Linked DNA regions of Homo sapiens: region 1 is linked to region 2. The links come from fine-mapping of genetic effects on gene expression. A gene starts in region 2. The other region holds a variant in brackets. All regions are shown on one strand. Distances are between the middles of the regions.

What was found. PIP is the estimated chance that this variant, and not a neighbour inherited with it, causes the effect.
Region 1: its variant is the best candidate, but not a certain one, in a credible set for the expression of XXYLT1-AS2 in prefrontal cortex (BrainSeq, PIP 0.64).

What each region holds. Positions count from the first base shown.
Region 1 is chr3:195,192,301-195,197,686 of GRCh38, forward strand. All of the region lies in intron 2 of XXYLT1 (xyloside xylosyltransferase 1), which reads right to left. Among named protein-coding and RNA genes, the nearest start is that of XXYLT1-AS2, 47 kb to the left of the region's middle. The variant A/C (reference allele first, on the strand shown) is at 3,316.
Region 2 is chr3:195,144,880-195,150,265 of GRCh38, forward strand. It overlaps XXYLT1-AS2 (XXYLT1 antisense RNA 2), which reads left to right and starts at 2,992. Exons shown (of 2, transcript NR_102711.1): 1 at 2,992-3,226. All of the region lies in intron 3 of XXYLT1 (xyloside xylosyltransferase 1), which reads right to left. LOC105374296 (a long non-coding RNA gene) reads right to left here. Exons shown (of 2, transcript XR_001741088.2): 2 at 4,392-5,386. It also overlaps the pseudogene RN7SL36P. RefSeq lists enhancers at 2,710-2,819, 3,060-3,109, 5,338-5,386.

The DNA of each region.
Region 1 (5,386 bases), 47 kb after region 2:
AGTAGTCCCAGCTACTTGGGAGGCCGAGGTTGTAGAATTGCTTGAACCCAGGAAGCAGAGGTTGCAGTGAACCAAGATCACGCCACTGCACTCCAGCCTGGGTAACCAAGTGAGACTCTGTCTCAAGAAAAAAAAAAAAATTAAACAATTTATCAATTCTTCAAAAAAATCTTTCAGAAAAGGAACACTTCCCAACTCATTCTATGAGACAAAAGAGAGCACAAGAAAACTGTAATTCCTAAACTCTATCTATCAATACAAAAAGAATTACATAGAATAGCTAAGTGAAGATTTATCCCAGGAATGCATGGCTGGTATAACATCTGAAATTAATGTAATACCCACAGACAATTGTCATATGTAAATTGTGAGAGACTGAATCCTTTCCTCCTAAGGTTGGGAACAAGGCAAGGACGTCTGCTATTGCCATTTCTATTCTACACTGTCCTAGAAGTTCTAGCTAGTGGAATAAGGCAAAAAATAAAATGAATTAACTAAGCAATTGATTAATTAAAAGCATCAGATTGGAAAGGAAGAAGGAAACTGTCTTTATTTACAGATGACATAATCCTGTATGTTAAAAATCTCAAGGAATCCACACAGAAAAAGGAGTTTAACAAGGTTTCAGGATATAAAATCAATCACACTTCTATATACTAGCAACAAAACAATCAAAAAAAGAAATTCAAAAAAATCCATTCCTGGCCAGGCACGATGGCTCACACCTGTAATCCTAGCACTTTAGGAGGCCAAGGTGGGCAGATCACCTAAAGTCAGAAGTTCAAGATCAGCCTGGCCAACGTGGTGAAACCCTGTCTCTACTAAAAATACAAAAAAGTTAGCCAGGAGTGGTGGTGTGCGCCTGTAATCCCAGCTACTTGGGAGGCTGAGGCAAGAGAATCGCTTGAACCCGGGAGGTGGAGGATGCAGTGGGCGGAGGTCACACCACTGCACTCCAGCCTGTGCCACAGAGCGAGACTCCGTCTAAAAAAAAAAAAAAAGCCATTCCTAAAATAATAAAATACTTAGGAATAAACTTAATAAAAGGAGTACAAGACTCGCATACTAAAAACTGCAAAACACTGCTGAGAAAACTAAAGAAGATCTAAATAGGTGGAGAGACATTTCATGTTCATGCATTGGAAGCCTCAACACCGTCAAGATGGGAATTCCTCCCAGACTGATATGTAAATTACTATCAAAATCCCAGCAGACTTTTTGGTAGAAATTGATGAATTGATCCTAAAATGTATATGGAAATGCAAAAACTTAAAAAAGCCAAAACAATTTTGTATAATAACAAAGTTGGAAAATTCACACTACTTGATCTTAAAAATAACTACAAAGCCACAGAAATCCAGACGGTGTGATACTGGCACAGGAAAGGCTTATAGATCAATGCAATAAAATTGGGAATTCAGAAATAAATCCTCACATTTATAGTCAATATATTTTCAACAAAAATGTGAAGGTAATTATTATTACTTATCACTATTGTAATTCAACGGGTAAAGGACAGTCAATTAGATATACAAATGCAAAAAAATTAATAAAAGAAAAGAATTTGGACCTTTATCTCACATCATACATAAAAATTAACTCAAAATGGATCATAGATCTAAATGTAATAGCTAAAACTATAAAACTTCTAGAAAACAAATGTTGCAGGAGAAAATATTCCTGACCTTGGGTTAGGCAAAGAATTCTTAGATAATGACACAAAAAGCCCTATCCATACAATAAAAAAATTGATAAACTGAACTTCAACATTAAAAATTTTGTGCATAAAAAATAAATCAATATTAAAATGAAAATAAGCCACAGACTGGGAGAAAAATATTTGTAAATCGTATATCTTATAAAGAACTTGCATCCAGGTTATATAAGGAATGCTTGCAACTCAGTAATAAGAAGACGAACACCCCAATTAATATATATATTATATATATATAAACAACTCAATTATATATCTATTCAGATATTTCACCAAAGATATGCAAAGGGCTAACAAGAACATGAAAAGATGCTTCACCTGACTAGTCTTTAAGAAAATGCAAATTAAATGAGATACCTTTATACACTCCCAGAATGGCTGTAGTAAGAAGACTGACAATAGCAAATGTTAGAGAAGTTGTGGAAAAACTGGAGCCCTCATGCCTCCCAGAAGGGAATATAAATGAGTACAAGCACTTGAGAAAACAGGCAGTTTCCTACAAAGTTAAACATAAATTTCCCATATGACCCAGCAATTCTACTCCTAGGAATTTACCCAATAAGAATGAAAATATATGTTCACACAAAGATAATGCTCACGACAGCATTATTCATAATAGCTCCAAAGTGAAACCGGTCCAAACGTCCATCAACTAACAAACACACGAACAAAACGTGGGACAGCCACACAATGGAACACTGTGTAACAAATTGAAAGGAATAAATGACTGATACATGCTACAACATGGATGAACCTCAAGAACAACATTATGCTAAGTAAAGAACCCAGGTGGAAAAGATTACATATTATATGATTCAATTTACATGAAATTACCAGAAAGGGCAAATTTAGAGAACCAAAAAGCAGATCAGTGATTGCCCATGGCTAGGGTAGGAGCAGAGATTAACTTCAAACAAGCAGAGGAAACATTTGGAGGAATGGAAAGGTTCTAACACCGAATTGTGGTCGTGGTTACATAAACCTATAAATTTACTAAAACCACAGAATTGTGCATTTGCAATGGATGAATGTGATGGTATAAACTGTACCTCAACAAAGCTGGGTTTTTTTTTTAAAAGGACAATGTACATAAAAATTCTCTTTAAACCATAAAACAGCAGCTGTTACTACAATGGTTGTTGACGTTAAATGCTATGGAGGGCCACTGAGAACCCTCCAGTGATAAAGCTGGCTACCGTTCTCATAAATGTTCTCTTAAGTGAATTCATATAAAGCACTTAGAACAATGCCTGGGTCTCAGTAAGCCTTCTGTATTAGCAGTTATTATTATTACAGTCATACTCAATGTCATTGCTATTACCAGCAAGACATGCCTGGCTTGAAGTGCTCTGAGAAGGTGGCCTGGCTTCCCCAGGGGTGACCACCACGGATTCCTTCCTCAGAGTCGCTCAGGCGCCTAAGACTGTTCCAGTCAGAAGTCCCACTGAGAAGTGGCCGCAGTTCTTCCACTGGACAGAGCCTCTTTCAGCTTTAAAAAAATAAAAGGACTCTCTTTTCTGTGTGTTCCTTTGTTCCTGGAACCATCTAGATCCCTGGGGAGAGGCTACCCGTGGTTTGTTGTAAATGAAAGAGATTCATGA[A/C]TGAAAAGCTTTTGTGCCCTGGTCCCTTCACTCTGGCAGTTCCCCTACTGCCCAGCCCGGGAACTCCATTCATACAGCTCTCAGGAACAGCTCGGAGGGCCCGGGCAGTGCCGTGCTGGGAATGCTCTTCCTGCACCCCAGCTGGAGCCCCTTCCAGCAGGCTCACCCCTCTGGCCTGCAGGAGTTCAGCACCGCCAGCCACACCTGCCATGGTCTAGACACAGTCCTGTTGCATTGAAGTATCCAATGAGCTCCAGTGAGCCTGAGCCTGGTCAGGACCTCCAAGTCACAGTCCCTCTTTCTCCTCACTGCCTCAGTCTCCCTGCCTGGCACTGCCATTCCCTCCAGGCTAGCCCGAGGCTGCAGCCTGCTTGCCCAGGTCACCTGCCACTGCCAGTCTCCAAGGCCCCTCAATGTTGGCTTCTTCAATCACCCAGGAAGCAGCCAAGCCCTGGAGGACAGCGCCGTCCAGCAGAACCCTGTGCCTGATGGAAACGCTCCGCACCCGCACTGTCCAATAGAGTAGCTGCTAGTCACATGTGGCTACTGAGCGCTTGGAATACAGCTAGTGTGACTGAGGAGCTGAATTTTTAATTTTCTTTACTTTTAATTAATTAAACAAAAATGGCCACATGTGGCTAGCATCTGTCCTATAGGACAACAGAGTTCTGCCAACTGAAAGTGGCCTTGCCATCCTGCAGGGTGCGGCAGGAAGCAGGGCAAGATGCTCCCTAGCCCTGTGGCACTCACCCTGCCCTATTCCCCACAGCCTACAGGGTCCTGCCTCCTCCCCATCCCCGCCAGCATCACTACTGGGCCAACAACCCCGACATGTACAAATAGTACCCCTGGGGCAATAGGTATGCCCCCTCAGAGCTGAGCACTGCTCCTGCAGTCAGCCTTTCAGCAACAGATCTCAGGGGAAGAAAACATAACACAGGCAGATAGGCGGAGAAAGAGACCAGAGATGAGTCAGGCAGGCGATGAAAACATAGGGAGGGAGAAAGGAGGCCTCTGCCTTCTCTGTTTAAATCTGAAAAAATAACCTGCCTGGAATTTTAACTTGCTTGGGATGCAAACTCAGGAGACCCAACCGTGTAAAAGCAAATGTAACAGGATAAGAAAAGAAGATAACTGAAAACGGCTTTGTACAAATTAAAATGCCAAAGTAATAAGGAATATTGGATGAGACAAGACTAAACTGGCTATCAATGTTGGCTGAACAAGTGACAAGTCATTAATTGTCACTTCCTTTAAAAAAAAAAAAGTAGCACATTTGAGGACAGGCAGAGCAGTTAGCAGGAGGAAAAATATTTTACACTGGGACTAGTATATCCTTTTTAAAACCCGGTGTTGTCAATTACCTCACAGCATAACCACCCTGGATAGGAAAAAATCAATATGCACCGAGGCAATTATCTTCTGCACCTCTTGGTACTGAATTGGCAATGAGTTTTCATGGCTCAATTAGCTTGTAACTTAAAACAATAGCAGCTAGTCTCCATTTTCCTCTGGGATATTTATTTACAACAAAAATGTGGCCAGGCACAGTGGCTCACGCCTGTAATCCCAGCACTTTGGGAGGCCAAGGCCAGTGGATCACCTGAGATCAGGAGTTTGAGACCAGCCTGGCCAACAAGGCGAAACCTCGTCTCTACTAAAAATACAAAAATTAGCCGGGCGTGGTGGTGCACGCCTGTAGTCCCAGCTACTCGGGAGGCTGAGGCACAAGAGTCACTTGAACCTGGGAGGCAGAGGCTGCAGTGAGCCAAGATCGCGCCACTGCACTCCAGCCTGGGCAACAGAGTGAGACTCAGTCTCAATTTAAAAAAAAAAAAAAAAAAAGCTATGTTATTTCAAAGTGTCTTCAAAGGACAGACTGAGAACCAAATATTAGTGGCATTATAGTGAAATGTTATTCTGATAAGTATCCTTGGGAAATAATATTAAGAAACACTATGTACCTAAAGATGTTCACAAGCATCATAGTATGGCATCATAAAATGGCAAAAAATTGAAACTATCTAAACAAATTAAAGTCCTATAAAAAAGACAACTATATATCCCGTCC
Region 2 (5,386 bases):
AACATCTTGGCAGGAAGGTACCGGCAGAAGAAATAGGGGTGCCTTTTCTCTGCTCTGGTTATTCTTTGTAAATAATATGATTCACCCTTATGTCTCTACCTTGCTTAGACGCAATCTTCCAGGCTCTCTGAAAGCTGAATACCAATGAGCTGCAATTATACATCATCAGGAACATGAAAGTCCTGTTCACTGCTACCCAAGTGAAGAGCTAGAATTATCCTGCTTTCTTTAGAGTTCCAAGTTCGTGATCCTTGGGCCGGTCAACATAGGATGGTCCTAGCAGCAAAGGAAAGGATTTCCATGCAGAGACTGGGCTTGATTTTATTGAGAGAAGCAGCGGGCTTGTTTGTGTTTGTTTTTTTAACAGAGCCAAGGAAGATCAAGTGGAAGCCACGTGAATGGGCACCTCACTCCACGGTTACCAGCATTGATGGGGCCCTGCGAGCATCTCTGTGAAGCCACATGAACGGGCACATCACTCCACGGTGACTGGCACTGATGGGGCCCTGCGAGCATCTCTGTGAAGTCACATGAACGGGCACCTCACTCCACGGTGACTGGCACTGATGGGGCCCTGCGAGCATCTCTGTGAAGCCACATGAATGGGCACCTCACTCCACGGTGACCGGCACTGATGGGGCCCTGCGAGCATCTCTGTGAAGCCACATGAACGGGCACCTCACTCCACGGTGACCGGCATTGATGGGGCCCTGCGAGCATCTCTGTGAAGTCACATGAACGGGCACCTCACTCCACGGTGACCGGCACTGATGGGGCCCTGCGAGCATCTCTGTGACTTCACATTTCTGAAAGTCCATAGAATCCACCAGCCTCATAATGAGCGCTCGTCTACAGACGCAAGGACACCGCAGACATCCAGGCAAATCACGACATACTACGCCAATTCTGGCTCAGCTTCCTCTTTTACAAACAGTGATAGAGCAGTCCCCAAAAGGCAGACGGCTGGGTTCCTGGATCAAAACACTCCTTTGGGCAGCTCCTTGATGCTGGAGTCAATTCTGCTACCATGAAATAGAAGATCACAGGGGTTCTCTATGATCAACAGTAAGCAGCTCATTTAAAGAAGTCACCTAAGGCAGGAGGAGGAGACAGATGTTCAATTCAACCCCAGGCTCAGATTAAAAGTTTGATATTTCTATAAGAGCCAATTCTGCTGCTACCCTGGAAGCAGAGGGATGGGAACTTCAGATCCGTTTCACTTAGGAACCCACAGAAGAAATGCAGTCCTGTGGCTGAAGTCTGCACCTGAGATGGCCATGGAGCCATATAGAAATTCCCTTCATGTGGGGCTGGTCACGCTCAGCTCAGTCCTTTCCACACGTGGTTTGTTACAGAAGGTCCCTCTTGTACACATGCCACTGGGATTCAACTGTGCTATTTTGCTTTTTTTCCCCAGGAAGATGCTTACAGATAAGCCTTTCTGCTGCCTGGATTACAAATAAGGTTCTTTCAATGCGATGATGTTTATTTGGCATAGGAAACAGATTGCAGCAATGCAACAAAGCACACAGTCCTGCGGGCCCATCATCCGCCGCTGTGCCTCCACTGTAGCCCTGTCCAGACCCACGTCCCACTGCAAGCTCCTGGAGGACAGGGTCTGGTTTCTCTCTACTGCATAGCCAAACCCTCGGCAAATGCCTGCCCAGTGAGCTTTCTATTCGGGCACAGAGTTTGGTCTATCCCAAGAGCACTCTTAGAGGCTACGCCTGCATTGCAAAGCCAAACACCACTCCGAGAGACTTTTCAGAGGAAAGAAGGGAATGTGATACCCACTTCTTAGCATTTTGAAGGCAGAACTCCATTTTTGTTTGTTTGGTTTCTTTTTTTAGAGACAGGGTCTCGCTATGTTGCCCAGGCTGGAGTGCATGGCTAGTCACAGGCGTAATCCCATTACTAATCAGCACAGGAGTTTTAACCTGCTTCATTTCCAGCCTGGGCTGCTTCATCCCTTCCTAGGCAACTTGGTGGTCCCCCGTTCCCAGGAGGTCACCAAGTTGATGCCAAACTTAGTGCAGACACCCACAGAATTCCTGGGCTTAAGTGACCCCCCTGCCTCAGCCTTCCAAGTAGCTGGAACTACAGGTGCAGGCTACCATGCCCAGCTGAAGGCAGAATATTAAGCTGAGGGAGAGGTGAGCCACTCAGTAAAATTTACAGTTCCTACAGCAAAAAGTCTATGTATCTTGTCCATGGGATATCTCTAAACAGCAGTACTGACTCAGTGTTGACACCGCAGGCATTTGCGTTTTCATTAAGTTTTATCTACCCTATCTCCCTCACGTTATATCTTCCTTGAAAGCAAGAGGCATGTCTTCTACTTCGTAATTCCTCATGGGACCAATCCTATGGCTCACACACACAATGAGCCAAATAAAAAACTGAGAATAGGCTGGGCATGGTGACTCACACCTGTAATCCCAGCACTTTGGGAAGCCCAGGCAGGTGGATCACCTGAGGTCAGGAGTTCGAGACCAGCCTGGCCAACATGATGAAACCCTGTCTCTACTAAAAATACAAAAATTAGCCAGGCATGGTGGTCAGCGCCTGTAATCTCAGCTACTTGGGAGGCTGAGGCAGGAGAATCGCTTGAACCCGGGAGGCGGAGGTTGCAGTGAGCCAAGATCACACCACTGCACTCCAGCCTGGGCGACAAGAAAGAAACTATGTCTCAAACAAACAAACTGAGAATAACAAACTTTCCCATGGACTGTCTTTACAAACAAAAACTGAATGTGAAAGTAACTTCTCTAAGACCAGTAATGGGACTACAGAGCCTGACTTAGCAGCTGGCCAGCACCGCGGAGGAAACGCCCTCTGACTACACATCTGTTCCTGCATTCACTCAACAAACATCGAAGTGCCTGGCATTGGTCTGCACGGCATAAACAGAACAGAAGGGCTGCCTCCCAGTCCCACCCCTTCCACGCATTCACTTCCTCACTCATTCTTTCAGGAGACACCTGTGTCAGGCACGACGTGGTGAACTTTTAAAAACGGATTCAGTAGTACCAAAATACTCATAATGTGCAGACAGACAAAAGAACTGGAAGGAGTCGTGTTTTCAGACACAGGAAGCTTTTCACGTGCTCCACCTGGACCTCATCTCTCAGCCTCACACTCCGATCTTCAGCAGCCCCCGCTATGCGCCCGAGTCTTGGGACGTCATCCCGGAGCTCCTAGCCTGCCCGGGAGGCAGAGCCATCAGGTAAGAGACGGTCACAATGACAGCAACACAATCCCGCTTGGGTTCTCTGTACAGAGTTTTCCTTTTAAAATACCTTTTCCACTGATGTTATTTAAAAATAACAACCTCAGAGTAGACTTCTGATCTCTACCACAGGGCAGGTACATCCCTCCCTTTTTATGAGTAATTCCTGCAGGGGTTATAGCACGGCCTCCAGGTCACACGGGCTACACAAAAACACTTAGCCCAGTTTTCTAACTCCCAGGGAGTGAAGGAATCACTATTTTAAAAGGTGGCAAGCTTTTTTCTCCTTTACTCAGATTTAACTCTGATAGAAACTGACAGGCTCAATCTTGGTTAATTTTTTTTTTTTAAACACGAGAACAAGGTTCAAGAAATTCATCTTCAGGTGTCAGAGAGACGAAAAGAACCCAATAGCTTTTATCTTCAAGTCCTACATTTATGCATCTCGTAATGAGGGTGATGGCTGGTTCCCTTACAACGGAGGGCTTCATGCCTAGTGAACAACGGACCTGAATTTATATCAGCCATAAAGCCTTCCAGACGTGACGGTCACGCTAACATCCTGACATGAGGCAATCTGCAGAGAGATGGAAAGTGTGCTTGGCTAGAGGTTAGTGCTGCCTCTCTCTATTTTCTTCCCTTGTACCAACTGATTTCAGACTGAGGAACTTGAAGACAGAGTGACACTATGAGCTCATATAACTCTCCTCAGCTCTAAACTCGGCCACAGCAGATGTGTTTTTAAGAAACTAATAGACTGAAAATGACATTTACAGACGAAATGCTGTGACGACTGAGATTCGTTTCAAAATAATCAGGGGAAGAGGAAAAGTGGGTGGGAGGAGACATAAAACAAAGATTGGCTAAGGGCTGATAGTTATTGAGGCTGCATGGATATTATAATATTGGGGCATCCAGAAATATTACATGATGCTTTCTACTTTTGTATATGTTGAAAGGTTTTCATAGTAAAAAGAAAAATCATACCAAGAGACCAGCAACATTTATCAAAGAAGGCTGACTTAGGTATAAGGATGGTCAAGATACACTGTTAAGTGAACAAAAAAAGATGTACAAAGGTATAGAGAGTTTATTTACATATACACACACACACCCCCTGATAAAAATATAGAAAATTTCTGGAAAAATAATAACCTCCATATGCTATTCAAAACAAAAATGTATCACTTTTTAATGATGAGTTTTAGATAACAATTGTTTTCATCCGATGGGGGGGCAACAGGAGGAAAGGGCATAGTCGGCTTGAAAATGAGATAAACATCTCCATGGGCCAGGAACAGAACAGAAACCATATTGGAGATCAGGGCTAGAGCCATGGCTGGAACCTGGAAGCAAGCAAAGGGCCAGATGTTCACCCTCTGTGCAGCGTAGCAGGGACCAAACACCCCACGCACGGGGGAAAGTGGAAGCCAGGCTCAGTGAAACAGGGAGTGGGGGCTGCCTCGGGCACAGTCCTCGGTCTCTCCCCCTGTCCTCGTCCCTTCCTCCTCTGCTGCAACTATACTGCAATCTACATTCGTCCCTCCCCCCATCTTTGATCCCCTGGTTTCCAATATTCTCTGGGATATTAAAATGTTCTTCACTATTGCGGACTAGTTATTTTCTCTTTGTAATACTGTCTGTTTCTGTTTTGCAAATACCTTACAATGTTTAGGGTAAAGCCATAAAAACTGGTCTGTATAGATAAGACACTATTAATAAATGTATGATGGTAATTTCCGCAGAAGCGGGAAGGAGGGAAACACAGTACCAACACCCTAGCTAGCTGCGAGGAAGCCGGGAGATAACATATCCAGCGTTTTTGTCTTCCATAATAGGAGGCAGGCTTCTATGGCAGAGAATTCCCAAATTCTAGGAAAGGGGTTAAGATGCTGAGAAGCCAAAAGATGAGCAATAATTTTGCTAAGTTGTCAGCAGCCCCAACCGTACATATAAGGAAACTGAGGCTGAGGTTAAGTGACTTCCCTAGGTTCACAGAACTTATCAGTGGCCAAGCTGGGACTGTGGATAACGCTGCCACCACCACCCAGGAGTGCTGCTCGTGCTAGGCACCATAAATACATTATCTGATTCAATCTCCCTCAACTCTGCCACATATAGTGTTATAATCTCCATTTCTCATGAGCTAAAGAGACT